3 linked regions of the Homo sapiens genome follow. The protein of the gene in region 2 interacts with the protein of the main gene of each other region in a biochemical or structural test. Each region holds a gene or a part of one and is shown on either strand. Other genes may lie near its edges. The genes, in order: NID1, COL4A1 and COCH.

What was found.
Region 1: the proteins of COL4A1 (region 2) and NID1 form a complex in vitro, tested with the Homo sapiens proteins (one study listed by BioGRID).
Region 3: the proteins of COL4A1 (region 2) and COCH interact in a biophysical measurement, tested with the Homo sapiens proteins (one study listed by IntAct).

What each region holds. Positions count from the first base shown.
Region 1 is NC_000001.11:235,969,614-235,978,090, reverse strand, and holds the end of NID1 (nidogen-1 precursor), read left to right. Parts: intron 1-102; coding exon 103-224; 3' UTR 225-2,261; downstream 2,262-8,477. UniProt on the Homo sapiens protein: Sulfated glycoprotein widely distributed in basement membranes and tightly associated with laminin. Also binds to collagen IV and perlecan. It probably has a role in cell-extracellular matrix interactions.
Region 2 is NC_000013.11:110,168,122-110,178,157, reverse strand, and holds part of COL4A1 (collagen alpha-1(IV) chain isoform 1 preproprotein), read left to right. Parts: coding exon 1-94; intron 95-226; coding exon 227-316; intron 317-1,120; coding exon 1,121-1,273; intron 1,274-1,433; coding exon 1,434-1,532; intron 1,533-1,644; coding exon 1,645-1,734; intron 1,735-2,800; coding exon 2,801-2,940; intron 2,941-3,408; coding exon 3,409-3,535; intron 3,536-3,631; coding exon 3,632-3,712; intron 3,713-4,159; coding exon 4,160-4,258; intron 4,259-5,387; coding exon 5,388-5,438; intron 5,439-7,425; coding exon 7,426-7,611; intron 7,612-8,395; coding exon 8,396-8,529; intron 8,530-10,036. UniProt on the Homo sapiens protein: Type IV collagen is the major structural component of glomerular basement membranes (GBM), forming a 'chicken-wire' meshwork together with laminins, proteoglycans and entactin/nidogen.
Region 3 is NC_000014.9:30,881,551-30,892,186, forward strand, and holds the end of COCH (cochlin isoform b precursor), read left to right. Parts: intron 1-2,959; exon of another isoform or gene 2,960-3,002; coding exon 3,003-3,106; exon of another isoform or gene 3,107-3,124; intron 3,125-3,434; coding exon of another isoform or gene 3,435-3,491; intron 3,492-3,843; coding exon 3,844-4,070; exon of another isoform or gene 4,071-4,245; coding exon 4,246-4,762; exon of another isoform or gene 4,763-4,776; intron 4,777-7,592; exon of another isoform or gene 7,593-7,705; intron 7,706-7,833; exon of another isoform or gene 7,834-8,065; coding exon 8,066-8,241; 3' UTR 8,242-9,068; downstream 9,069-10,636. UniProt on the Homo sapiens protein: Plays a role in the control of cell shape and motility in the trabecular meshwork.

The sequences.
Region 1 (8,477 bases), on a different chromosome or scaffold from region 2:
AAACTAAAAGGGGGATCACACACAAGAAGGAGCCCACTATCTTAAATGGCTATGGAGTCAGATCAGAGAGAGGGCTATTGAACTGATTTCTGCCTTTTCCAGGCCATAACTACTGCTCAGTGAACAATGGCGGCTGCACCCACCTATGCTTGGCCACCCCAGGGAGCAGGACCTGCCGTTGCCCTGACAACACCTTGGGAGTTGACTGTATCGAACAGAAATGAAGACAAGAGTGCCTTATTTCCTTTCCAAGTATTTCACAGCAACACTCTACTTGAAGCAACTTGGTCCAGATTGAAAAGTGTCCTCTGGCTGAGTGGCCACTAGGCCCAGACCCAGCCCAGCCTGAGCCCCAACAACTTTTCCCTCACTGTTCCCCAAAACATGCACCCTGGACTTCTCTAATAGAAAAGTCTCCACCCCTACACAAGGACAGAACCCTCCACCCCTACCCCCAACCCTCAGACAGACTTATACACCCCTGAGTGAGGATTACATGCCCATCCCAGTGTCCTAGGACCTTTTCCCAATACTAGCCCCCCAGTGGTGAACAGAACCTCCCAAATTTGAGTTGCACCCTTCCCTGTGGCCTTATGAGCTCAGCCTCGCTTTGAGGTACCCACCGTCCTGTCAGCTCCTTGACCTATGAGCCGGGGCCTGACTAGGAAAAGTTGGGAGTTAAGGAGGAAATTAGCATTCCTTAATGTTTTGTTTTGGTGCTCTGAATTTCTTCTTTATTATAGTCCTATAGTTTTACTCCTCAGTTCCTCACCATCATCATCTTGTCTAAGACCCCCATTATAATATTCATGCGCTGCTTTTTCATCAAAACCTACCCTGTCCTAGAGATCTATGGGCATTTGGTGGATGATAATGAGCAGCCCCTCCCAGATAGAATGTCAATATTTGAGCAGTAGGATATTGGCATTTGTTAGTTAAAGGCTTAAATCAAAAGAATGTCCAATGGTAGGAATTTCAAGGTGTAGGTCAGATATTTGAGAATAGGGGATTTTTTTGATGTGCCTTAAATTATACCAAAGATTACTAATTATTCCTCTTTGCCCAAAATACTTGCATCCAAGGTTCTAGTCTCTGTTGCTGTGCTGGTCTTTAGCCCCACTGCTTGCACTGATGTCCCTCCTTTTCACGGAGACCTATCTGAGGTACAGGATGGGGCTGGCACCAGATGATGTCCCACCACAGTCCCTCACCTCCGGCCTCCACATGACAGAACCAATTTACACTCAACCATGACCTCACCCCTCCTTGGTTTCTCCCTCGATCTGTGGCCCTTTTTGGATGTATTCTTATCTAACAACACAATCCGGAAAGACTGAATTGAATATTTATACTAATGGTTCATATCCTTTATTGCTCAATGATCTAATTAAAGGGATCATTGCCACATTTCATGTTTATATTTCTACAATTTGTTTAGAAAACATCTCCTGACCATATCAGTAGCTCGTGTTATCTTTTTATCAACTGCTTCCCAGAGTCCTAAAACAATAGAAATTTTGGATTGAAAAGTTCAGCATAAGGAGTTTGAGTCAGTAAAGGATGGGATAAAGGAGTCGAGATGATTCAATGAAAAGTATCACAAAAAAGAGATTGATCAACAAGAGAAATAAAAAAGCCCAAGAGGAAGTGGTAGGGGAAGGAATTTAAGAACAGCAATAAGTAAAACTCTTAAGTAACTCCAAAAAGAAAATGGTACATTTTGCCAAAGACCACTTATACTTGAGAACATGGAAGAATTTGCCTGATACTCTCTTTGGGGAAAAGAGTCTCTCCTCTTTTCCTCAAACCCCAGTACACTCAGCCTCTCTGCCCCACCTTCTCCTGACTTTGTCCTCACTTGCTTCTGCAGTACATTGGAACCTGAATTGAAAGAAAGTCTTCCTTGAATAATTGGAGTTTGTCTTGAGAGGCAAATATAGCCCCAAGAATCACAAGATTCGAGGACCATGTAGGTCTTTTACGTAGCCCAAATCCATAAATTAGTCTCACTTTTTGTATTTATCGTTTCATATTAAACCCTCTATATCAAATGTTCATCATGATTTTGTATGATTTTTATAACTATTTTATTCATTTTATTAGATTTATTCTAAAATTTTTTAATGGTAAATTCTTAAACTGTGGAAACCACTGAAGGTGCTTATTAACTGTTCTCCCAGATTTGTACAAGTATTGGATGATTCCTTGAGTTTACAGCTGTACAAATAGTGTGGAAAATAAACTTTTTTTAAAAAAGAAAATCTTCCTCTATCTTTTCTGAATGAAGAGATTTAATGTTGGGAGGCTGATTCATGATAGACAGACAGACAGCCACTTAATAATCTGCAAAACCTGTGGAGCCCAGAAACTCTTATCCCAGTATTATGAGAGCTAGTATGTTTCTCAACCACAAAAAACCTTAGGGGTTGTAATTTACCTAAAAATGAGTGCAGTGTCTCACACCTGTAATCCCAACACTTTAGGAGGCCAAGGTGGGTGGATCACTTGAGGCCAGGAGTTTGAGACCAGTTTGGGCAATACAGGGAGACTCCATCTCTGCAAAACATCAAAAAAAAAAATTAGCTGGGCATGGTGGCACACACCTGTAGTCCCAACTACTCAGGAGGCTGAGGTGGGAGGATTGTTTGAATCCGGGAGGCCAAGGCTGCAGTGAGCTATGATCGTGCCACTGCACTCCAACCTGGGCAACAGAGTGAGACCCTATCTCAAAAACTTAAAAAAAAAATAAAAAATAAATTATATTATAGATTTCAAGCCACCCTTTTGGATATTGTTTTCATTGAGAAAATATATTCTACAAGCAGGCAATAGAAAAAGTTTTCTGATTCAGCTCTGGAGATAAGCTATGTTTTAATTCTCTTTTTACCTCCAGAAGGAAGAAAGATGCTTTCCTGGCACTGGCTATGGAGTGAGACCCCTGGTCTGTTCTAAGCTGCCACCAACAGGCAGTGCCACTCATGCTGGCCCCTGGGTGGGATGAGAATGGCCTCTGAGTTGAACAGAGTGAAGGGGGCTCAGAAGTTGCAGGAATGAGGTGTCCAGAGCTCAGTTGTTGCAGAGAAGGGAATTGGCACCATCAGTGGAGCCAGTATACAGCCTGCCAGTGTGAATTTCTTGAAAGAGACAACTTACATATGTTAGGGCTAAAACTTCCAGTGTTTTATGCTGGCCATAAAATCTGGTTACTCAAAGACGATATCAAGCTCCATGGTGGAGATAAGAAGCTCCTGGAATCTATCCCTCCATTAAAACAATTGAACTGGCAAGAGCTGTCTGATGCAACTATTTTGGAATTCAGGATCTTAGGGAACACTTGCAGCACCCAGGAGAAAGCTTGATGAGGAGGCTGGCAAGTTTTGGTCAATTTCAGCTCTTTACTTAGTGGTGACTACCACCCACCTTGATCAGCCCCAGGGCAGTCAGTTGTGGGGACAGCAGCTCAGGTACTTAGTGTGGCTTGCTGGAGCCAGGTTGGACAATAAAGACCCAGTTTTCCAAAAACCAAGGTTGTGGGTTCTGATTACTGATTGCTGCTTTTGATCCTTGAGGGGCTAGCATATAGGGAAAAATTTTCATGATACTGGGTTTGTCAAACATTTCTTGGACATATCAAAAGCACCAGCAACGAAAGAAAAAAACAGGTAAGCTGGACTTCATCAAAATTAACATTTTTGCATCAAAGGATACTATCAAGAGAGTAAAAAGACAACCCATGGAATGGGAGAAAATATTTGCAAACTCTATATGTGATAAGGAATTAATATTCAGAATATAACTACATTTCAACAACAAAAGCAAACAATTTAAAAATGAGTAAAGGATTTGAATAAACATTTATATGAAGAAGATATACAAATGGCCAATAAGCATATGAAAAGATGCTCAATATCATTAGTCATTAGGTAAATGCAAATAAAAACCACAATTTGACACCAGTTTACAGTATTAAGATGGCTTTTATCAAAACAAAACAAAACAAAACAAGTACTGGAGAGCATCTGGAAACGTTGTCCGTTGCTGATGGGAATGAAAACAGACAGCTTGGTGGTTCCTCAAAAAGTTGAATATAGAATTACTATATGATCCAGCAGTTCCACTCCTAGGACTATACCCAAAATAATAGAAAACAAGGGCTGGAACAGATGCTTCTGTGTTACTGTCCATTGCAATATCATTCACTGTAGCCAAAAGATGGAAACAACCCAAGTGTCCATCAACAGATGAATGGATAAACAAAATACGTTATGTACATAAAATGGAATATCACTGAGCCTAACAAATGAAATCCTGATACATGCTACAACACAGATGAACCGTCAGGACATTATGCTGTGGGAAATAAGCCAGACACAAACTATCAAGCAATATATGCGCTTCCATTTATATGAGGTATCTAGAATGTACCAATTCATGGAGACTGAAAGTAGATCAAAGGTTACCGGGGGCTGTGGGGAGGTGGAATGGAGAGTTATTGCTCGATGGCTACAGAATTCTTACCTGGGAAAATGAAAAGTATTGGAAATAGTGGTGATGGTTGCACAATATTGCGAATGTAATAAATGTCAGTGACTTGTACACTTAAGAATTATTAATGGCTGGGCACGGTGGCTCACGCCTGTAATCCCAGCACTTTGGGAGGCCAAGACGGGCGGATCACAAGGTCAGGAGATCAAGACCATCCTCGCCAACATGGTGAAACCCCGTCTCTACTAAAATGTAAAAAATTAGCCGGGTGCGGTGGTGCGCACCTGTAGTCCCAGCTACTCAGGAGGCTGAGGTAGAGGAATCGCTTGAACCCGGGAGGCGGAGGTTGCAGTGAGCTGAGATCGTGCCATTGCACTCCAGCCTGGCAACAGAGCAAGATTCTGTCTCAAAAAAAAAAATTATTAACATGGCAAATTTCATGATATATACATATTTTACAATTTTTAAAATTAATAATGTAATATACCCAAAACCATTGCAGGTACACTTTGGGTGAATTACATAGCATGTGAATTATATCTCAATAAAGCTGTTTTGGGTGGGCACAGTGGCTCACATCTGTAATCTCAGCACTTTAGGAGGCTGAGGCAGGAGGACAACTTGAGGCCAGTAATTTGAGACCAGCCTGGGCAATATAGTGAGACCCCCATCTCTACAAAATCTTTTAAAAATTAGCCGGGTGTAGTGGCAAGTGCCTGTAGTCCTAGCTACTCAGGAGGCTGAGGCAGGAGGATTGCTTGAGCCCGGGAGTTTGAGGTTACAGTGAGCTATGATCATGCCGCTGCACTCCAGCCTGGGCCACAGAGCAAGACCCTGTCAAATAAATAAATAAGCTGTTTTTTAAAAATCACTGTAATTAAAAACAAAAACTCCTGGATACCTAAGGTTGGCAAAATGCTGATCGTTGTTGTGGCTGGCCGAATTCTAAAGATTTCAAGATTCTAATTTTGTACTGCTCTGAAGGGACTTTGCAGATGGAATTTAGATGACTAAGTAGCTGACGTTAAAACAGGCAAATTATCCTGGGTTATCCAGGCAGGCCCTTAAAAACAGAGGAGGGAGGCAGAAGAGTCAGAGAGATAAGGCAGAAACAGAAAGCGGGAGAGGAGAGGGTGAAGGGGGAGAGGGACTATTTACACTTCCCTTTAGGTTACAGGCACAGAGAAACCTTTAGGCTGAACTTAAAATATGTGAGTAGCTTTAAGCTAAACTTGATTTAACAGGGAAAAACAGGACTTTGCAAAAATTCTTTTAGGGAGTGTACTATCGAGCACATTTGAAGACCACAGGTCTCGAAAGCGGGGAAGACGGGACCCAGAGTCCCCCGCAGCAGCGTCACGGCCCAGCTCTGGTTCTCAAGTTGGGCTGCTGTTTTTCCCCTTTTTCTCATCCGCCAGGATGCCAGGCGCTGCTGAAAGCTGCAGCCGAAAGGATTTAGAATTCCTTACAACGGAGAAAGGGTCTTTGCTCAGACAACATGGACTTAAGAGACGGAAGGGCCAAAAAGGCTTGAAAACAGGCTCGAAGAGCGGCTTCCTGGTAGCTAGAAGCTTAAGTGGGGACAGATGAGCTTAACTGGCAAGCCTGCGTGTGTGCTCTCCAGCCCCCGTGATTCAGTTTAAATCTGGGCGGGTCTCCTCAAAGACAGTTCCAGAAGGGGCCACGTGAGGGCAGTAAGAGCCTCTCAATGCCTGTTTTTGGGGGAAGAGAGAAGTGAGGGCGGAGCGCGGGGAGCGTCCCAGGCCTGGCTACCCGGATAACTTCCCCAAAAGAAGCTATGCTCGGGCCTTCCCATCGTCCCACTCAAGAGCTTTCTTCATATTGGTGAGTTGCCCAACTGCTAGCAAAAGAACTTCCCAATTATGGTCAAGCCTCTTCATCTAAATTCAGATTTCCACCAAATAGCCCAGCCCTTTTCCTCCCCAAGTCATCTCCTTACTCAAACATTTGCAGACATTCGTCACACGAGATCCCCAGCCGTGGGCTCAGCATCTTACACCGAGGTACGAAAACACAGAAGTATTCCTGAGTGTATTCTGTGTATGCAAAAGTGCATACGTCTCCTTATGGACCAGGTTCTGAGTGAATCTAAGTGGAAAACACGGAATAGCAGGCTAATTCCAGAAAATGCAGGGCTTTTGCAAATAAGTGGGCGTCTAGTCACTAAGCAGGTAGTAATAACAGGTGATGCTAAATGATTGCTTCGAACCACTTTGTTAAGGGGATCAGAGAAGGGAGAAGGCTCAGGAGAGAGAGTGCAGCAAGAAGCTTTTATTAGCTGGATGGAAATGGGAAAACTAACTCAGGATAACCTTATGTAGTAGAATTTATTGTGCCCATTGAGTAAGTCAGGAAACTGAGGGTTAAGGAGGTGAAGTAACTTGGCAAAGGTCACGCCGTCAGAGCAGAGTCCAGTTCCAGATTTGGTTTACTCTAAATACCCTTCCTCACCCCCCTTTTTAAGAAATACCTTAAATGAAAATTTATTTTTACTTTATCTTACATTATTATTTATTTGTATTCAGCACATTTTCATTTAGAAAGTTGGAAAATAAAGGCACAAGAAAAACAAATAACAGTAATTTCATTACTCAATAATGGCCTCATCACTACAATCTTGTCCAGAAATGTTGTAAACACACACACACAATACTTTTACATATATTTTTGTAAGATATATATATAACAAAAAATGTGATCCTGTGATACTTTTCCGTATTTTTGTTTTCCATTTAAATAAATGTGCATATGAACATTACTTTGATCAACTACATAATAGTATCATACTCTATTATATGGACAATAAACTCTCACCAGTTCATTTATTGATGAACTTTTAGGGTGTTTCTATGTGTTTTTTGATGTGATAAATAACAATAAACCAATAAACACCCACATACTAATATCAGTGTCCTTTTTTTTTTTTTTTTTTTTTTTTTGAGAGTCACGCTCTGTTGCCCAGGCTGGAGTGCAGTGGTGCAATCTCAGCTCACTGCAACCTCCGCCTCCCGGGTTCAACAATTCTCCTGCCTCAGCCTCCCGAGCAGCTGCGACCACAGGCATGTGCCACCATGCCCAGCTAATTTTTTATATTTGTAGTAGGGATGTGGTTTCACCATGTTATCCAGGATGGTCTCAATCTCCTGACCTCATGATTCACCCGCCTCGGCCTCCCAAAGTGCTGGGATTACAGGCATGAGCCACCACGCCCGACCCTCAGTGTCCTTATTAATATCTTTAGGATAAATTTCAACTCAGGATTATTTAAAAATTTAAGACTTTCAATAGATACTCCCCAACTGCCTTACAGAAAGTTTGTACCACTTTATACTTCCACCAGCGGGAGTGTTGGAGAGGGCCCGTTTACCTATGTTTTTGCCTTTGCATAGTTTATTTTTTCATTTTTGCCAATTACATAGGTGGTGTTTGTTTATTAAAATTTACATTATTGGCTGGTTGCAGTGACTCACGCCTGTAATCCCAGCACTTTGGGAGGCCAACATGGGAGGACTGCTTGAAGCTAGGAGTTTGAGGCCCATCCTGGGCAACATACTGAGGCTCAGTCTCTAAAAAGAAAAAAAATTACACTCTTTAAGTTGCGGTAAACTTTTGAAATGCACACTAGCCACTTAAAGTTCTTTTGTCAATTGTCCTTCTAGTCCTCAGTTCTTTTTTCTAATTGGGAGAATCTCACTGATTTATAAGTGTCCTTTACATTTTAAAGCTAATTAACCTTTTGTTGTCTATTTTGCAAATAATATTCCCCAAGGGTTTGTTGTTGTTGTTGTTGTTTGTTTGTTTGTTTGTTTTTTTGAGACAGGGTTTTGCTCTGTTGCCCAGGCTGGAGTGCAATGGCGTGATCTTGGCTCACTGCAATCTTGGCTCACTGCAACCTCTGTCTCCTGGGTTCAAGCTATTCTCCTGCCTCAGCCTCTCCAGCAGCTGGGATTACAGGCATGTGCCACCACACC
Region 2 (10,036 bases):
AAAGGGGCTCAAGGACTCCCTGGCATAACGGGACAGTCGGGGCTCCCTGGCCTTCCTGGACAGCAGGGGGCTCCTGGGATTCCTGGGTTTCCAGGTAAGTGATTTTTGAACTTCTGCCTGGATCCATCATGAAGACATGGGCCTCACCTTATTCTTTTTATGACTCAGCATTTACTGTCAGCATTCAGAGCAAGAAAATGTTCACAGTCCTTTCCTTTGGCCACAGGTTCCAAGGGAGAAATGGGCGTCATGGGGACCCCCGGGCAGCCGGGCTCACCAGGACCAGTGGGTGCTCCTGGATTACCGGGTGAAAAAGGTAGGGGAGCTGATAACCCTAGAAGCTCATTTTGTGTCTATTTCTCGATGCCACTTGGGAAATTCTCAAGTTGTCATAGATCATATTTCCCTTTAAGACGCCTACAAAAGAAGTTAGGAACATCAAGCAGAAGGCTGGGAGACCCCCTTCTTCCAGTAGGATTCCTGGTGCTCAATGCACATGGGGTTGAAACTGTGCTTGGCCAAGCAAATCAGAAAGAAGCTGGGCTTTCCTTCTTGGCACAGATGAGATTCTTCTTGTGAGAAATGGTGGAATCTTCAGCCATGCCAAGATACAGGGACCGAGTCCTTAGGCTCAGATTAACAACCTGCGCAAGTTTACAAGGCTTCGTCTTTATTTCTTATCGTTATTTGAAGTTGTTCCAAAATAATGTCTTTTACAAAGAAATACTGTAAATATGACACATGAAAAGGTCATTTGTTTTGTAGAATGATAAAATTCCTGTTCTATTATTTTGTATAGAACTGAGGGGCACTATGAATAAGAGTGATAAAGATATGTAGGAAGGAGAGAAATGTAAGTTATCTAAACCTGAAAGCCAAGTCACATGCAGTAGAGTTATTAGCGAATAATGAATTGTAGAAAATGGCTTTTTACTGCTCATTTACCTGGGGTTGGATTCTTCTGTGTCTCAGACACTGGCCATTAATGCCATTTTGGACAAGTTATGAGTGCTTTGTAGCCTTTTTGCCAGCTGCTGTCCCTGTCAACAAGAACGTGAGCCTTTTGAGCACCTCTGTGACACTGGCCCAGGCTCACCAGTGCCTTCTCTTTCCTCTGCAGGGGACCATGGCTTTCCGGGCTCCTCAGGACCCAGGGGAGACCCTGGCTTGAAAGGTGATAAGGGGGATGTCGGTCTCCCTGGCAAGCCTGGCTCCATGGATAAGGTGGACATGGGCAGCATGAAGGGCCAGAAAGGAGACCAAGGAGAGAAAGGCAAGTCCAGGAGGCTTCTCATGGCCAAGCTCGGAACCACAATGTGCCTTTCCTGGGTTATCGGGTCCTCCATAAATAATAACCAAACCAACCTGCGTTTCTGCAGCAACTTGCTTGCAAGCAAATGCGGGTCATTGCTATTTTCTTCTCTGATGTGTAGGACAAATTGGACCAATTGGTGAGAAGGGATCCCGAGGAGACCCTGGGACCCCAGGAGTGCCTGGAAAGGACGGGCAGGCAGGACAGCCTGGGCAGCCAGGTACAGTGTGGAGCTCCGGTCCCCAGTGTGGCAAGGGCTCAGGATGAGGCCTGTGTTCCCCAGCTCTTTCTGTAGATGTCAACCTGTCAGACTGCTTTCTTTATGGTTCTAGGACCTAAAGGTGATCCAGGTATAAGTGGAACCCCAGGTGCTCCAGGACTTCCGGGACCAAAAGGATCTGTTGGTGGAATGGGCTTGCCAGGTAAACTGGATTTAGAAGAGGATTCTTTAGCATGTGTGCGTGTGATACTGGTAGGGCATGTCTGCAGAATGAGATCCTCTTCAGCTGAGACGGACAGAATCCAGGCACGTGTGTCTTTCACATGAATTCACATCCCCAGCTCTGAATGGTCTCCTGCTCAGGGATGGATGACATTTGGCTGACAGAATGGCCATTGCTAAGAAAACTCACCATCTAATGGAATAAAACATGGGCTGTATACAGTCAACTTTTGATGATCTCCAAGTGACCATCCCCTTGTCTAGGATCTCCCTAAGAGACGACGGCTTCTCCATCCAGGCTTGTCAGCCTGAGTAGCTTATGGCTCCAGAGCCCTTTGTGTTAGTTCAGAAGAATTCTCCGGACTCCTCTGCTCCAATCCCGGACTAGCCTTAATGCTTTGCCATCAGTGTCTATTGTAGTGAGAGCAGCCGGGAAGAGGAGGAGAGTGCGGGAAGGGCTGGGTGGTGATGGTCCTCAGAGCTCACTCAGAAAGGGGGAGAGTTCAGATGGGAAGCCCATCTTTCCATCTCCTCTTGAGTCTTGACCAGGTGCTGTTATCACTTTAATTAAAATATAAGCATCTAGATTGCTGGTCATGCCTATGTGTGAATAAGCCTGGCTACCAGCATGCATCACAGAACCGAGTGTGCACAGACTCCGGCCTGCCCGCCTCATAGTCCCTGTGACGTCTGGCTGATGAGAGCTGGCTGTATAATAAAGAACATAAGATCCATTTTTATTCTGTTGAGAAAGTAAATATTCTAGGTAGTTAATGTATTTCTTCCCTGTCTTATAACATGATGGTCTTAAAGGACGGGAGAGACATTTCCTAGCGTGGCTCTGATGTGATCTGGGTGACTGACGTGTTCTGGGTCATGAGCCGATTGATACATGAGGGATGTGCATTCTTGTATCTCAATCTTGGCTGGTTGTGGGGGATTCACGTTCTTGTATCTCATTCTTGGCTGGCTGTGGAGGCACTTTTTCATTTGTAATACCAGCACTAGCTAAGCCCAAATCAAGTTTCAATTGTTTGTGTTTATAGGAACACCTGGAGAGAAAGGTGTGCCTGGCATCCCTGGCCCACAAGGTTCACCTGGCTTACCTGGAGACAAAGGTGCAAAAGGAGAGAAAGGGCAGGCAGGCCCACCTGGCATAGGCATCCCAGGGCTGCGAGGTGAAAAGGTAACCAGCGCTCTGCGTGGAAAGGTCCCCTTCTCCCAGCTCAGTGGAGATGCTGCCTGAGAAATGCTCAGCAAATATCTCAGCACACTCAATGAGCCATAACACACAGGGAGTCCCATAAGGCAGCACAAGTCGCCTCTCCTTCCCCTTGTATTCACTACCTCTCCCCCAAGGAAGAATCTAGAGACTGGTGAGAGGCTAAGGTGGGAGACAGCTGTCAGTGGGATAAAACAGAGAGGATGGAGGACGAAGAGGAATGGCAGGTAGAAACCAGATGGTTGGCTCTACTGCTCTTAAGTTTTCCTCTCCATTCAGAAGTGGACTTTGATTCTTTGATGAGAAATCTGGAAATGGAGTTTTGCAATGCAATATTCATTGCACCAAAATGTATACCATTATCTATAACATGCCTACAGATGCATGCCCATGGACAAATGTAAAGTTAATATGCCTGACTTTTACTTGCAGGGAGATCAAGGGATAGCGGGTTTCCCAGGAAGCCCTGGAGAGAAGGGAGAAAAAGGAAGCATTGGGATCCCAGGAATGCCAGGGTCCCCAGGCCTTAAAGGGTCTCCCGGGAGTGTTGGCTATCCAGGTAGGTGAGGGGGGCTTCTCTTGGACTTGGGGAATCTAAGAAATCAAAGAAAAGCCCAAACTTATGGATGTTCTGGTGTTTTGTTTTTTTCTTTAGGAAGTCCTGGGCTACCTGGAGAAAAAGGTGACAAAGGCCTCCCAGGATTGGATGGCATCCCTGGTGTCAAAGGAGAAGCAGGTAGAGGGCCCTCTTTGGGACACAGCCCGGGCACATAGAGAACAGTGGCCAGGGGATGGGAGGCCCCAAGGAGTTCCCATCACAGACGGGGAGCAGGGAGGCCAGCTGTCCTGTCTCCCATCTTCAGATGGGCAAACTGAGTCTAGTGCAGGTTACAGGATCTTTCTGAGGTCTTGTCACTAGCAGGATCTAGGACCTAAATCTCCAAACTGTTTTTGTGGCCATCATGGAGTTTTTGTCACCAGCTTTTGAGGGTCAGGGTTTGGTGGTGTTGCTGAAAGCACGCAGGGTCCTTTCTGAAGGGAAGTCAGAACTGACCTCAGGAAAACCAGGTGTGCTTGGGAGGGAACAGCTCCCTTAAAGGATGTCAGCAAAGGGCCATTTTGTATGGCAGCTAGGGTGCTGTGAGAGGTTATGCGGGTGTCTGATGTGACTTTTCTCTTTGAGGTCTTCCTGGGACTCCTGGCCCCACAGGCCCAGCTGGCCAGAAAGGGGAGCCAGGCAGTGATGGAATCCCGGGGTCAGCAGGAGAGAAGGGTGAACCAGGTATGGCCCAACGCCCCATTCCCTATCAGAATCAGCAGTGTCCACTCCCAGAGACCTGCAGACTGCCTGTGTTCAGTGAATAAAGCTGGGCACAGAATGGCCCCTAGACTGCACATCCCTGCAACTACTTAAACACTGATGTGGATGTGTGGAGTAGAGTGGGATGAGTGGAGGGGAAGAAGGGAAGGGGTATTTATTATCCCATAAATACTGAGGGCATCTTCCCCTGAAATAACCTGAGCTCTCAGTGGTGAGTCAGAGACACATAAAATACCTGCTGTTAGAACACTTTCCATTTCCCTTGTGGTTGCTATGACAAAACAAAGCAAAGCAAAACAAAACTCTTTTCTTTGCCCAGCATTTCCCCATTTGAGGGGAAATGGTTGGAAATATTGGTTGGCCCCTGAGTCTGCTCCTGTCACTGGTGGGCTTTAACTTGGCCATAACTTGGACAAAAGTGCAGGTGTGATGATGACAATCACATACACAGTAATATTTGTATTTAATGCAAGAGAGAGATAAACACACCATTTGAAGCAGGTTACCCCTGACTTGGGGGGACACTGGGAGGACCACCAAGAGCATCCACAGCTATTGGTGCTGGCTTTCTTTTCATTTTTTTCATTCCATAACTTTATATTCTATACATTTGTTTTTCTATACAAACAATTCATAAAAATACCCCTGCACTCCTTTCCCCCGATTTGAATCTTCCCTCAAGCCCTTTGCTGACGTTTGTCATCTCCCCAGCATCTGCTGCCCCAAATCTCTTTGGCTTTCCCCACCTCCCTGAGAATAGCAATTAGTGGATGGTTGTCTGAGAATCCCATTTGCTTATCTCCAGACGGCAGCAGGAAACAAATACTCATTTGCACAGATCATTTGTGCTAAATGCCGTGGTGGTTCTGAGCTGAAAGGTACTTAGGAAAAAGTACTAAATTAGGAACATTCAGTCAAGGGTATCTTATAACTGTAGGAATATCATTTTATTACAAGGGTGCAATTAACTAATATCTATGTACTCCACAATATACGTAGTATTATTGCAGAGTTGATAGTGCTTTGTGTTGTACCTGCAGATGGATTGTTTAAGTAAAGAGAAACGTGGCATTTTACCCTCATCTTATAGGTCTACCAGGAAGAGGATTCCCAGGGTTTCCAGGGGCCAAAGGAGACAAAGGTAATCTTTGCTCACTGTGCTCTTCCTTTTCAACCAACCGCTGCTGCCTGATTAGCAGAACAAGGGGCAGTGTCTTCAGGATGAAGCCCCATGCCTGTTGGCCAGGCAGCAACGGGATGGAGGATGGGTGCTGAGCCCAGAGGGCAATGCCTGCAAGACACATGTGGTTCCCTTCTAATTAATGGATCAAAATGGCGTGCAGTACACTCATGATCAGAATTATCTTTTACTTGGACTAATTTTGTAAAAATCCAGCAGAGAGGCGAGACCCCTGTCATTTTTATGCCTAGAAGGTCATCAGAATATTGAAATTCTGACTTTCTAGAACTGGTTATACTTATGTGAATGCAGGACAGTATGTAGCACACACCACGAGACAAAAACATGCCCTGCGCAGCCACGATGTGCTCAGTACTAAGTGCAGCTGAGAGTTGGCCAGGAGCTTGGGAAGGCAGTCTCTTCTCTCAGAGAGCTGAGCATTTCATGGGAAAGCAAAGGGGACACAGAAAATACAAGGCATGTGAGCTGCACGACACTGAAGAGAAGCCACAGGTGGCCGCAGCCAGGAGCTCACACACAGCATCCATGGGCATGCTTATGGCCCGTGGCTGGGCTGGCTGAGTGATCCCACTCAGTGGGAGGATTCAGAAAGCCCTGGAAGGCCTTGGACTTCAGCTGAGAAGGAGCAGGGGCACGGAGGTGTTGTTTCTCCCACCCCCTGGTTCTCCCCGAGACCAGCCCAGAGTGTTTCCTTGGCAGGCATGTAGTCTGACACTGGGAACCCCTGGGTTGAGAAGGATGGCCTGGTGCCGGGTGGGCTGCCTTGGGAATGGACACTTCCCTCTCCCTTAACTCACAGAATCCCTCAAACACAGAGCCCCTTGCAAATGCACCTGCTCAAGGGGTCGCTGTGGGCTGTTCCTGCCCTGCCTTTCCTACCTTGCCATGTGATCCCGCACACTCCTTTGGACATGCTGCACTGCCCTTGCACAAACTCTACGCAGCACCTTGCGTTTTCCACTCATTGCTGTGTGAAATAGCAGGGAGAATCCCCAGGAGAAGAGAATCCCAAATGACCACTTTAGGTCTTGACCCTATTTCATTCCCTTTTCCTTTGTTTTGGAAATAACCTTAGAATTTTGGCATTTTTATTGGTAAGATTTGGATACTATGTTTAAAACTAAACATAGAATTTCTTTTTCCTACAAGCTGTTACTTTTTAATTTTTTAAACCTGCTCTATTGAAGTTTCACTGACAGGTCATAAACTACAAATATTTAAAGTGGACAATTTGATAAGGCTGACATAGGTCTACACCATGAAAACATCCCCACATTCTAGATAGCAGGCAAAGCCTTCCCCCAAAAGTCTCCTCCGTGGCTTCATAATCCCCCCCTCCTGCCCTCTCCCCATTCCCCAAGCAACCGTCCATCTGCCTTCTGGTCCTCTAGGTTAGTTTGCATTTTCCAGCAGTTTACAAAAATAAAACCATACACTTCGTAGTCTTTTCAGCCTGACTACTCTCCCACGACATAATTCGTTTGAGATCCAGCCCAGTGGTTGCTCACTTCTTTCTATGGCTGAGTAGTGTCCCACTGCATGGATATAACATGATTGGCTTGTCCAGCCCATTCATGTGCTGATGGAGTGAGGCTTTCGTTTAGCAGTGCAGTTGCTGCAGATGTCTTTAAACACAATTCAGATGCCTTTGCCATAGAACACGTCTCGTGAGAAGTATGAAAACGATAGCTGGGTTCCTAGCATTCTGAGCTCTTTTTCCAGCCAGGCCATGGTCGGATTCTAGTGTGTTATTAAAGAGAAGGAGGGATCGGAGCCCTTGCTGCAGTTTCCTGTGGTGTCCCTGGAAGCTCCCTCTGAGCGGTACCTACAGGATGAGGCACGCCTCATCCCATCTCTGCCGTCCACGCTGGAGATTACTGTTCTGCTGCTGCGTTTCCCATCACCTCAAACTGTTTTTCTTGTTCAGGTTCAAAGGGTGAGGTGGGTTTCCCAGGATTAGCCGGGAGCCCAGGAATTCCTGGATCCAAAGGAGAGCAAGGATTCATGGGTCCTCCGGGGCCCCAGGGACAGCCGGGGTTACCGGGATCCCCAGGCCATGCCACGGAGGGGCCCAAAGGAGACCGCGGACCTCAGGGCCAGCCTGGCCTGCCAGGTAAGGGCATCTCGCCAGGGGCCAGGGCTGAGGACTGGGACAGAATTCACAAAAGGAAATAGCGTAAAAGAAATAGTTAAATTCTCAATTGGGCTTTTTTATTTAGAAGTCTGCAGCATTTATTACAGCTTGAAATTGTGTTTGGCCCCCATCGAGTCAAAGCTTTTCTTGTATCCTTTCTGTCAAGGAATTTAAGTAATTAGGGAGATGCAAGAAAGGAAATGATTGGACAAGCCTGGACTCGTGCCCCGTCGGTGGCGTTGGACTTAAACCAGCGCAGCACTTGGGCCCACTTGTGGGTTCTGGTGAAGACCCCCGTAGTGGTAGCACAGATGCCCGGGCACCACTGACCGCAGGCCATTTTGGACACGGAGACAGTGGCATTTCTATGTCTGTCCTTCCTTCCTTCCTTCCTTCCTTCCTTCCTTCCTTCTTTCCTCCCTTCCTCTCTCCCTCCCTCCTTCCCCTCCCCTCCCCTCCTCCCTCCCCTCCTTCCTCCCTCCTTCCCTCCCTTCCTTCCTTCCCAGACCTTCCTCAATTTCTGTCTCAAGGGTTCACATTGTCGGTCCAGTGTTTTATCAGAGATAGTAGTGTTTCTATTCCCTCCCTCCCTCCCTCCTTCCTTCCTTCCTGGACCTGCCTCGATTTCTGTCTCAAGGGTTGTCACTGTTGGTCCAGTGTTGTATCAGTGAGGGGCCGTGGGTGGCAGTATTGATAGCCCCACAGCCCAGGGACACTTGTGCATATTTAACCCCAAATGTGTGGCTTTCTTCTCTTCCATTAGGACTTCCGGGACCCATGGGGCCTCCAGGGCTTCCTGGGATTGATGGAGTTAAAGGTGACAAAGGAAATCCAGGCTGGCCAGGAGCACCCGGTGTCCCAGGGCCCAAGGGAGACCCTGGATTCCAGGGCATGCCTGTGAGTTATTGATTTGTAGATTTTTATTTTTAAAGGAGTCTTTTCTGGCCAGAAGTATTCATATGTGTCTATGTGTGTATGTATTTTGTGTATGTATATATATGTGTGTGTGTGTGTGTGTGTGTGTGTGTTACACTCCCACATCCCCACTAAATCAGTTCTTTCTTTCTTTCTTGCCAGTAACCCACATCTTTATTGGCATCAGAGTAGGAAACTATTGTAACATTTTTTTACAATCCAGTTTTCCAAGAACCATAAAAGGGAAATGTTATACTGCTGGAAATTATGGCTCAATGCCTAAATTTAAGACCTATTTACAAACTCAATGTAAAAAGCAAGCCAATGTTGTTTTGCAGAGAACAATTCTGTAAAACTAGCCCAGCCATCTCTTAGGACTGGCAGGAGGACAGGGAATTGCAGTTGAACAGTTCAAGTCATAAAAGATAACCAGCAATATTCCATCTTTCTTTACTGACCTGATCCAGATACAGAGTCTAAGTGGTGACTTAGACAAGCCTTCAGAAGAGCACATCTCAGGGTGCAATAAGTGACCAGCAGCCTTGTGTATTTCTGTGTGTGTGTGTGTGACTTTGGCTCTTTGCTGCACCTGAATATATAGCCCTTCTTAGTGGTGGTCATGGATCTTTGGTTTGATTTTTAGCTTAACCATGTCCATGGCTAAAGGATTGTGTTTACGTGGCTCGCTCATTCAAATAGCTGGATTAGCAGAGCTTTATTCTCTGTGTCTGTCTCTCTGTTTCCTCTATCTGTCTCCATCTGTCTGTCTCTCTGTCTCTCTCTAACACACGTTAGGAGAAAGAGAGAGTATATCAGGGGAGATCATGAATAGGAGGGATTTGAGACAGACCTCTGCAGTTATGTTGGAGCAAGCGGGGTTCTTCTGTAAGTCAACACATGTTCTCCCTTAAAGGGAAAGCTTTGAACTGCTCATCAGCAGCAGAGACATATCTTAGAGTCATCAGACTACTTTCTCAAGGATGGATACAGAATAGCTAAGCTTGCTGGGTGCAAAACAATACGTGGTGCTGATTTACTTCTGAATCAGTAAGTTATGAAATGCTTATAAATAATTATGCAGAACTGGCTATAAGGAGTAGCAACAGTCATGTTTACCCATTCCTTGTCCTCAAAGCTGTGTATATCTCCACAGTATAGCAAATGTGTATGTGAATGTATTTTTGGGCCCCTATTGCTATATTGCAGTTTTCCAGTAATGTAAGCCTAGGTAATTTGTCAAATATTTATGTATTCTCATTTTTATTCCTCAGTAACATAGAAATATACCCCATTCCCGGCTGGGCCTGGTAGCTCACGCCTGTAATCCTAGCACTTTGGGAGGCCGAGGTGGGCAGATCACCTGAGGTGGGGAGTTCGAGACCAGCCTGGCCAACATGGCAAAACCCTGTCTCTACTAAAAATGCACAAGTTAGCATGGTGGCTCATGCCTGTAATCCCAGCCACTTGGAAGGCTGAAGCAGGAGAATTG
Region 3 (10,636 bases), on a different chromosome or scaffold from region 2:
AGCAGTGATATGTCTATTCCACCTCCCTATTCTGTTATTCTTTTTAGCTCTTTCCATATTCTCTTGGTTGGTGATCTGAAGCACGACCTTTCTATTTTATTCATTTAAAAATATTTATTAATTGCTGGCCAGGTGCGGTGGCTCACGCCTGTAATCCCAGCACTTTGGGAGGCCGAGGCGGATGGATCACGGGGTCAGGAGATTGAGACCATCCTGGCTAACACGGGGAAACCCCGTCTCTACTAAAAATACAAAAAAAAAAAATTAGCCGGGCGTGGTGGCAGGCGCCTGTAGTCCCAGCTACTCGGGAGGCTGAGGCAGGAGAATGGCGTGAACCCAGGAGGTGGAGCTTGCAGTGAGCCAAGATCGTGCCACTGCACTCCAGCCTGGGCAACAGAGCAAGACTCTGTTTCAAAAAATAAAAATAAAAATAAATAAATAAATAAATATTTATTTATTAATTGCTTTTAGAAATAGAATATGCTCATTATAGAAAGCTTGAAAATACATAGAGCACAAAAAAAGAAATGCTCTAAATCATATGCCCTAGAGATAATCACTATAAAATGGTTTTTTTTTTTTTTTTTTTTTTTTTTTGAGACGGAGTTTTGCTCTGTCACCGAGGCTGGAATGCAATGGCACGATCTTTGTTCACTACAACCTCTGCCTCCTGGATTTAAGTGATTCTCCTGCCTCAGCCTCCTGAGTAGCTGGGATCACAGGTGTGCACTACTACGCCTGGCTAATTTTTGTATTTTTAGTAGAGACAAGGTTTCACCATGTTGGCCAGCCTGGTCTCGAGCTCCTGACCTCAGGTGATCCACCTGCCTCGGACTCCCAAAGTGCTAGGATTACAGGTGTGAGCTACCACGCCTGGCCCCTTCAGTATTTTAAGGAAATATTTGACTGTATTATTTTTTAAAAACTCAGACTATTAAAAATGCCCTGCATCCTGTTTTTTTCATCCTTTAGTATTTTTAGCATTTTCTCATATCACAAATATTCATCAAAAATATTTCATAATATTCCGCTGCATGATTAGTCATTCTTATTATTTCTTCACTACATTACACACTACACTGTGATGAACATCCTTATATCATCTTTGTGCCCATCTCTGATTATTTCATCAGGTTAGATTTCTAAAAGTGAGGTTCTGACTTAAAGCCTCTGATATAAATAGTGAAATTGAGCCATGCACAGTGGCTCATGCCTGTAGTGCCAGCTGCTCAGGAGGCTGAGGTGTGAGGATCTCTCAAGCCCAGGAGTTCAAAGCTGCAGTGAGCTATGATGGCACCACTCTACTCCAGCCTGGACAACAGAGAAAGACCCCATCTCTAAAAAAACAAATAAATAGCGAAATTGCTTCCTAGAAAGGTGAAGTAGTTTAAACTACTATCAGCAGTGTGTAAGGTTGTATAAACAGTGCTATTACAAATATTAATTTCCATTTCATTTCTGTTATTTTTTACAAGTGGCTCTGCTCTTAGATTAGATAGAATTTTTTTGGCATGAGAAGAAAATTTAACTGTTTTAACATAATTTAACCATTTGTCTCTCACCCTTAAAAAAAATGTGTTCCTTGTTTCATTGACTTATGGTATCACATTTATACCTGAGTTTGAGCAAGTCTATTTCTTTGATTCATATGCTAATCCTTACATATTTTTTTCTACGCTGCTTTGATTATCACAGTTTTATTGCACATTTTAACATCCCATGAGGCAAATTCCCCTGCAGTACTTTTTGTCTTGTACTTTTTTCTGACTACTTTGACCCAATTCTTTTTGAAGATGAATTCTTCATTACCTTGTAGACTCATACAAAGTTTTGTAGTTTTTCTGTTTTAGAAAGACCATTAGAATAGGTAAACCATGTCAAGTTTATATGTATGTAAGTCAAAGAACAGAATATATCAAGGATACAAAAATGAGACTAATTTCATAAGTCATAATCTGGATAGTTGAAAAGTGACCACAAGTGAAAAGGTTTTCAACCCATGAAATCTGATTTTATGACCCAATATTCCATCAGGTATGTATGCAGAAATACAGTCAGTGTTCTACTTCTCCCTCAAAAAATCTTGAATAAAATGGCTACTGATAATGCTAAGATCTTAAATTTTGCACTAGGAAATACTGACTCATCTAGAAACTAAACACAACAGATTGTGCTGTGGTTGTTTATACTCAAAACGGTCTCTGCTGAACACAGAGTAGTTATATAAAAGTGAGCTGAAATTCCTTTAATATTAAATATAGGAAATGAGATCTCAAAACTCTTACAATACACATAATTTTAAGGTGCACAAATGTCATTGTCATTATAAGAAAAACTCAATATTGTAACTTTATAATTCATTTCACCTTTGTCCCTTTAAAAAAATGTTGACGGTCACATCAATGAAATTGTTTCTCCTGAACAGAGAGCTCTGAGTTAATAGATCCACACTACTTAGAGCCTCTGGGGTCCCACACTGGAACAGACCCTAGTCTCATACCCAGCCACTTCCTCATTTAGTTTAGCTACCTGGTGCCCAACTCTGCGGACTTCTGTTAAACCCGAGGCTCTGAGCCAAGCCCGATTTCAAGTTCTCCGTATAGTTTAGGCATGGACTTTGCAGCCAGACAACTTGAACTTAAAATGCAGCTGTGTTTCATCAGGCAAACTCCCTAAATGCTCTGAGACTCAGTTTCTTCATTTACATAATTGGGATAATTCCAACCTTATAGAGCTATGATGAAATGAGGTTTTACATGTGTTATGCTTTTGGCTTATTACCCAGAATATAATAAATCCTCAATATGGCAATTATTTGTTACACCTCTGAAATATCTCCAATAATTCAAGTAAGGATGCAATGCCTCAGTTGACTATGTACTATGGAATTAAGAAAGAAACTTGTGTGTTGTCTGGTTTTAAAACTGTTTTTTAAGGCATGTAATGTTGCTTATTTTACCTTTTTAATTCTCCCTGAATAACATTTTCTTTCTTCCACTCAGTGAACATCCCAAAATAGAATTTTACTTGAAAAACTTTACATCAGCCAAAGATGTTTTGTTTGCCATAAAGGAAGTAGGTTTCAGAGGGGGTAATTCCAATACAGGTAAGTAGACTTTGATACCTGGGATGTAACATAGGAGAGGGTTATCAGTGATCAGACATGTAAAACAGTATTATGCTATTTTATATGAGCAGATGTGAAATCCTCCTGGAACTGAAATCTTGGCTAGGTCTGCATTTGATCATCTGAGATAAATTTTCAATTTATAATGGAAGTATACCAAAGTGTTGATATTTCTTATTTTAAAAAATATAAAGCATGGTGATTTAGAATTCTCATACATTGGATTGACTAGATATAACATTGGAGAAGTATCTCTTTGTAATGCTAAAAAGAAGTGAAAATCAACAGACTTATCTAATGAATGCAGATGTGGCAGAAAGAATGAGTAGCACTACCGTTGACTCTGAAGAGAGACTTCTTAGAGGTACTAATCAGTCACCAAAGGGCTACATAGAGAGCACATGCATGGAAGTGGGAATCAGTTTTGTGTTTCTAACTGGCGATTGATGTGGGGTAAACAAATGTGAGGCTTCTAGGAGGTGGAGGGGGAACTAATATGGCTTGTGAAGATAAATAGGCCTGGTAGATAATTAAACTTTCCCAGCTGATGCATCTGTTACAGAACTGGGTTCTATATAATTCTTTTTTGTGTGCCCCGCCCCACTGCCAGTTCTATATATAATTCTTAAACTTTGCAGCATCAAATGCTACAGGGAAACAGAAATGTGGTTTGAGCAGTGGTAAAGGCTATTTGTTTGCTTCTTTTTCAAATTTAGGAAAAGCCTTGAAGCATACTGCTCAGAAATTCTTCACGGTAGATGCTGGAGTAAGAAAAGGGATCCCCAAAGTGGTGGTGGTATTTATTGATGGTTGGCCTTCTGATGACATCGAGGAAGCAGGCATTGTGGCCAGAGAGTTTGGTGTCAATGTATTTATAGTTTCTGTGGCCAAGCCTATCCCTGAAGAACTGGGGATGGTTCAGGATGTCACATTTGTTGACAAGGTAAAGTGGTGAGGGTTATCTTCTGTTACAGTGATGGGTATTCCATTTTGGACCTCTAAGTGCAGTGCTGACTGCCTCTTATCTAGATTAACTTGAAACATTCAGGATTTTCCAGTTTTTAAGAAGAAACAACTTTTGATCCTTTTGGATATCTTTTATGTGTCTCCCCCATTAGGCTGTCTGTCGGAATAATGGCTTCTTCTCTTACCACATGCCCAACTGGTTTGGCACCACAAAATACGTAAAGCCTCTGGTACAGAAGCTGTGCACTCATGAACAAATGATGTGCAGCAAGACCTGTTATAACTCAGTGAACATTGCCTTTCTAATTGATGGCTCCAGCAGTGTTGGAGATAGCAATTTCCGCCTCATGCTTGAATTTGTTTCCAACATAGCCAAGACTTTTGAAATCTCGGACATTGGTGCCAAGATAGCTGCTGTACAGTTTACTTATGATCAGCGCACGGAGTTCAGTTTCACTGACTATAGCACCAAAGAGAATGTCCTAGCTGTCATCAGAAACATCCGCTATATGAGTGGTGGAACAGCTACTGGTGATGCCATTTCCTTCACTGTTAGAAATGTGTTTGGCCCTATAAGGGAGAGCCCCAACAAGAACTTCCTAGTAATTGTCACAGATGGGCAGTCCTATGATGATGTCCAAGGCCCTGCAGCTGCTGCACATGATGCAGGTAAGGTCCTTGTTCTTTATAGGAGAAGGGAACAGAAAAAACGGTTCAGTGAATTTAGGAGTAAATAAAAATTTAAGCATTTATTTCATTAAACAAACACCTGTGGCTTTACCCAATATTAACTGTTAAAGCAGCCCTACTCATCTCATTCTACAGATAAGGAAGCAAACTTCCTGGAAATGACATTTCTAGTAAGTGGCAAGGCCAAGATCCAAACCCAGGCATTCTGGCTCCAGAGTGCACATTCCTAACCACTGTATTGTTGGGAGAATTGCCATGAGAACCATGTCACATTAAGGAAATATGCTTATACATATACAATTAAGGTGCTCATATTTAGCTCAAACTTGGACTATATCTCCAAATAGCCAGCTTATAACCTACCATGAATCTGCCATTCAGTAATTTATCCTAACTTTCTTGTGTATGAAACAGGTAATTGCTCTGTCACCAGGCTGGAGTGCAGTGGCATGTAGTGAGCTACAACCTCCAACTATTGGGCTCAAGCAATCCTCCTGTGTCAGCCTTCCAAATAGCTAGGACGACAGGCACATGCCACTGCCCCTGGCTAATTTTTAAATTTTTTTGGGGAGAGACGGGGGTCTCACTTTGTTGCCCAGGCTGATCTCAAACTCCTGGGCTCAAGCAATCCTCACACCTTGGCCTCCCAAAGTGCTGGGATTACAGGCATAAGCCACCACACCCAACCCTAACTTTTATTTTAGTCAAGTTTTGTCTGGCATGAGTTTCCTAAGATAAGGTCTCCCATAGACTTTACCTATCCCATCAAAATTTCCTTGGCCAGGTGCAGTGGCTCACATCTGTAATTCAGCACTTTGGGAGGCTGAGGTGGGCGGGATCACCTGAGGTCAGGAGTTCAAGACCAGCCGGGCCAACATGGTAAAACCCAGTCTCTATTAAAAATACAAAAATTAGCTGGGTGTGGTAACATACACCTGTAATCCCAGCTACTCAGGAGGCTGAGGCACGAGAATCACTTGAACCCAGGAGGCAGAGGTTGCAATGAACTGAGATCGTGCCATTGTACTCCAGCCTGGGCGACAGAGTGAGACTCTGTCTCAAAAAGAAAAAAAAAAAAAAAAAAAAACTTTTTCCCCCCCGCTTAAGATAATAAAAACACACTCTGGTGTTATAAAAGGGTATAAGAAGGGTTTCTTTCTTCCTCACCCCAGCCTTAATATTACTTTTGGCACAGGCCTCGTTCCTGAAGACATTAACGTAATGTGTTAGAGATCAAATAGGCCAACAAAAAGCTAAGATTCCCTTTCTGAGGATATAACTGAGTGACAGGAGGGAAGAATCAATGGACTTGTTTTTTTTAACACTCTTCTGTACCTCATTTTCCCTACTTAATTCCTAATGACATAACCTTTTTCCTTTCTACACATTAGTACCTCTGCCAATGTACTCACATATTTTTACAGATACTGATGAAAGATTATTCTTAAAACAGAGAACACATGCAATTTAAGTTCCACATCTAGCTTGTAAAAAGTATTTTTTATACATCAGCAACTAGCCTGTGAAGTAAAGACCTGTTTACTATCATATTCCTTAATACTTAGCTTACTGAACTTATAGTTAACAGGATTGTATTCAGGCTATAAAGTGATTAGGTTGATTAAAGTTCAGGAGGCTGGACTACACCAATATTGATTCGTGAAAATTATCCCTTAGTGATATTGAAAGTTGCAAAAGCCAGAAAATAGGGTAGGATTTTAGGGGTAGATCACAACAGTTTTTATTTATTTTCAGGGTCTTGCTCTGTCACCCAGGCTGGAGTACAGTGGTGTGATTATTTTTTTTTTTAACTGTAATTATATGCTGGGCTTGAGCTAAACAATCTGAACTAGAATGTAGAACTGAAAAGAAGTGAGGAAAACTGAGGGGGAGGAAAAAAATATTTTGACTTTTTTTTTTTTTAACCAGGGAGTGAGAGTCAGGAAAAGGAGACTGGAACAATTGGACATTGTTCCAAGTAGCTTTTACATCATCTAAACCTGCTGCATATCTTAGGTATTTACCACTCTGAGCACTGTATACCACTAGAAGGGGAATGAAACCTTAGATCTGTAGAGGAAAACTATTACAGAAACTCCAAAAGTTATAGAAAATTGCACCCAGCATTAGATAGATGGTACTCTACACTAAGAATCTGCTAAATGAGGCCAGGTGTGGTGGCTTATGCCTGTAATCCCAGCACTTTGGGAGGCCGAGGCAGATGGATCGCTTGAGCCCTGGAGTTCGAGATGAGACCAGCCTGAACAACATGGTGAAACCCCATCTCTACAAAGAAATTTAAAAATTAGCTGGGCTTAGTGGCATGCGCTTGTAGTCCCAGCTATTTGAGGATGGGGGTGCTGAGGAGGATAGTTTGAGCCCAGGAAGTTGAGGCTGCAGTGAGCCTTGATTGTACCACTGCACTCCAGCATGGGCAAAAGAGCCAGACCCTGTCTGAGAAAAAAAAAAAAAAAAGATTAAATGAAAACTTCTACAATTGGGATTGGGGTGAATCCAACTAATGTATTATTACCCTAAATGTACAGTTGTACTAAAAGCCTTCTAGTAACTAAAGTGAATGGAAATAGAATACCTCAATGAAACTGGAAGAAATTACTCCAGTTTCATAAGATCCCTCTTGGGCAGTACTTTTTAGTCACTAGTTTTGCTTTGGGATTATAGGCTGACATTTTCTGATTATTAGACAGTTTGCCAATATAAAGATTGAAATGGAAGAGGATTTTTCATTATCAGAGGACTAGTCACCATTCCTCAAACAATGCAACCTTTGAACACTTTTGCTATTTACTTATCCCATCTCTTGTGCCATTCTTCCTTGCTTTAATGGATTGTGACTCTGACTCCAGTATACTGTTTGATGCAGGCCAACCTCATACGGAAAATTTTCACCATCCGCATTTACTGTAGGATTTTAAAAAAGATACTGTGGATCAGGTTAAAAGTCTTCTTCTATTCCTAGTTTATAGGTGTGTTCTGTCATTAATGGATATTGAACTTTATCAAATTATTTCTTATCAGTGATGACTTACCTGTTAATGTGGCGAATTACAGATATAGCAGAGTTTCTGGTTTGGACCACTCTTTTGCCACTCTCGTCACAATGACTGTGAAAACTTAATTTGTTCAGGGGATTTAATTGTCCAGAAATTAGTAAGCAGTTTTCGCTGCAACTATGTAACAGTGTATGGAAAACATATAGACATAATTCCATATATTAGCTAGACCTGATTTTCAATTCACTTTAAAATGTTTTCATTGTAGGAATCACTATCTTCTCTGTTGGTGTGGCTTGGGCACCTCTGGATGACCTGAAAGATATGGCTTCTAAACCGAAGGAGTCTCATGCTTTCTTCACAAGAGAGTTCACAGGATTAGAACCAATTGTTTCTGATGTCATCAGAGGCATTTGTAGAGATTTCTTAGAATCCCAGCAATAATGGTAACATTTTGACAACTGAAAGAAAAAGTACAAGGGGATCCAGTGTGTAAATTGTATTCTCATAATACTGAAATGCTTTAGCATACTAGAATCAGATACAAAACTATTAAGTATGTCAACAGCCATTTAGGCAAATAAGCACTCCTTTAAAGCCGCTGCCTTCTGGTTACAATTTACAGTGTACTTTGTTAAAAACACTGCTGAGGCTTCATAATCATGGCTCTTAGAAACTCAGGAAAGAGGAGATAATGTGGATTAAAACCTTAAGAGTTCTAACCATGCCTACTAAATGTACAGATATGCAAATTCCATAGCTCAATAAAAGAATCTGATACTTAGACCAAAAGCAACATTCGTTCTCTAACCATTCTGTATTGATTATATAAGCAAAATGAAAAGAGAAACTTAAATGAACACAGCTCTTTAACATGGTTCAGGTACACATATTTTGACCCAAGTGGATATTTTCTTAAAACCAATCAATAATAGCTAGCTATTACTGCAGACTATAAAATCTGGATATAGAAAGGAGACCTGTATCAAACTGCTTTTGTAGTGTGTTTTCATAACAACTTATGACTAAAAATATCACACTGAATAAGAGAGCAGGATTGCCAGGTATTTTTCTATTTCTCTCCTTAATTTTATATGTATATAGATATATTTGGCTTATATTCTAAGTCACCTAAGTACTTAAAAGTTAAGTTGGTAAAGTATTTACTGACTGCTTATAAACATTTAAAGACAAAGACATTTCAAATAACTGCAGAAAAAATATTGTAGTTTGAATATTTAAGCAATAAAACTGCTAGTGAGTTATTGTAAGCTGGCTTACTTTTATTACTGCTAGTGTCTCCCCTGAGGATATGGTAAAAATTCATGTGGAAAGACCAATCTGAATTGTTTTTTAAATCATGTAATAATACCAAGAATATTTTTTCTTTGATTCAATTATTTATTGAGGCCAAGCACAGTGGCTCATGCCTGTAATCCCAGCACTTTGGGAGGCTGAAGCAGGAGGACTGCTTGAGGCCAAGAATTCAAGACCAGCCTGGGCAACATAGTGAGAACCCCCTCTACAAAAAAGAAAAAAAAATTAGCCGGGTGGGATGGTGCATGTCTGTAGTCTGAGCTACTTGGGAGGCTGAGGTGGGAGGACTGCTTGAGCCGAGGAGGTCAAGGCTACAGTGAGCCATGATCACACCACTGCACTCCAGCTTGGGTGACAGAGCAAGACCCTATCTCCAAAATAAAAAAAAAAATAAAAAGACACAAGTTTATCGAATACCTACTGTCCTAGGCATTATACACAGCCACTACCTGATTAAACAGTATAAGATATTTTTGAGTACTTGCTTCACCAGAAATGTTTTGTAATTGACATCATTTTTTACTTAAAAATGCTTGTGAAGTTGGTTCCTATGAAAGGAGAACATCAGGACTCCCTTAATGTGACTTAGATGATTCGCTTACCAAGGCCTCTCCCAAAAGACAGAGGTGCTCTATCATCCCACCTTGTCTGTCTTTTCTAAAGATAGGTCCTATCTCCTCCTCTCATCCACCTAAGCCCCCTGAAATGTGTTAACTGGTTAGAATAATATACTCCAGTAAATCTTCTGAGTCTTACAATTTTATACCCTGCATAAGAGGAATAAAAGGACTACATGCAGGGAGAAACAAACTGGAATTGACTTTTTCACTACATAAAAATTTGAATTTGAAAATAGAGTTTGAGAAGACAACCTCCCCTTTTATAAAATGCTTCAAACATGACTGAATCATGTAACAGGGATAATTTTAATTAAACATCATAAAAACTGGGTTTAGCATAGTATGATTTTTCCCCAGTAAGTAGACCAAAAACTCTCAGCTAGGAGTACAACCCCTTGGAAAATTAAGCTCTAATGAAAACCCAGCTACCACTCATTAGCCCTTTTAAGAAAGTGGTTTTTTCTTTAATTTTATAAAGGACCAAGTTTTGAGTCACCTGAAGTAACCAGGGAATAGCAGCAAGACAGCAGAAATCAGAACTGTAGGTTACTATCAATAATTATGTAAGTAAACATAATCAGGATAAAGGTTATTTACAGGAGACAGAGTAAAAAGGAAATACGTATTACAATCCAACTTAAGCAAACATGCTTAGATTTCAAATATGCTGGCCCATTTATAACTTAATGCATTAAATGCAATGTTAGTCTTCAACAGGTAAGTTACCTAGTTTGAAATAATGAGAAAAACAACATGAAATGAGAGGCAGAATATGATTAACTATTGAAGAAATCAACATATTAAGATTTGTATAAAGTACTATTTAATAGTGAAATTAATCTAATTTCCCATGTGTCAAATGGAAGCACACATAATGAAAATAAGACATTATTTTTGCATAC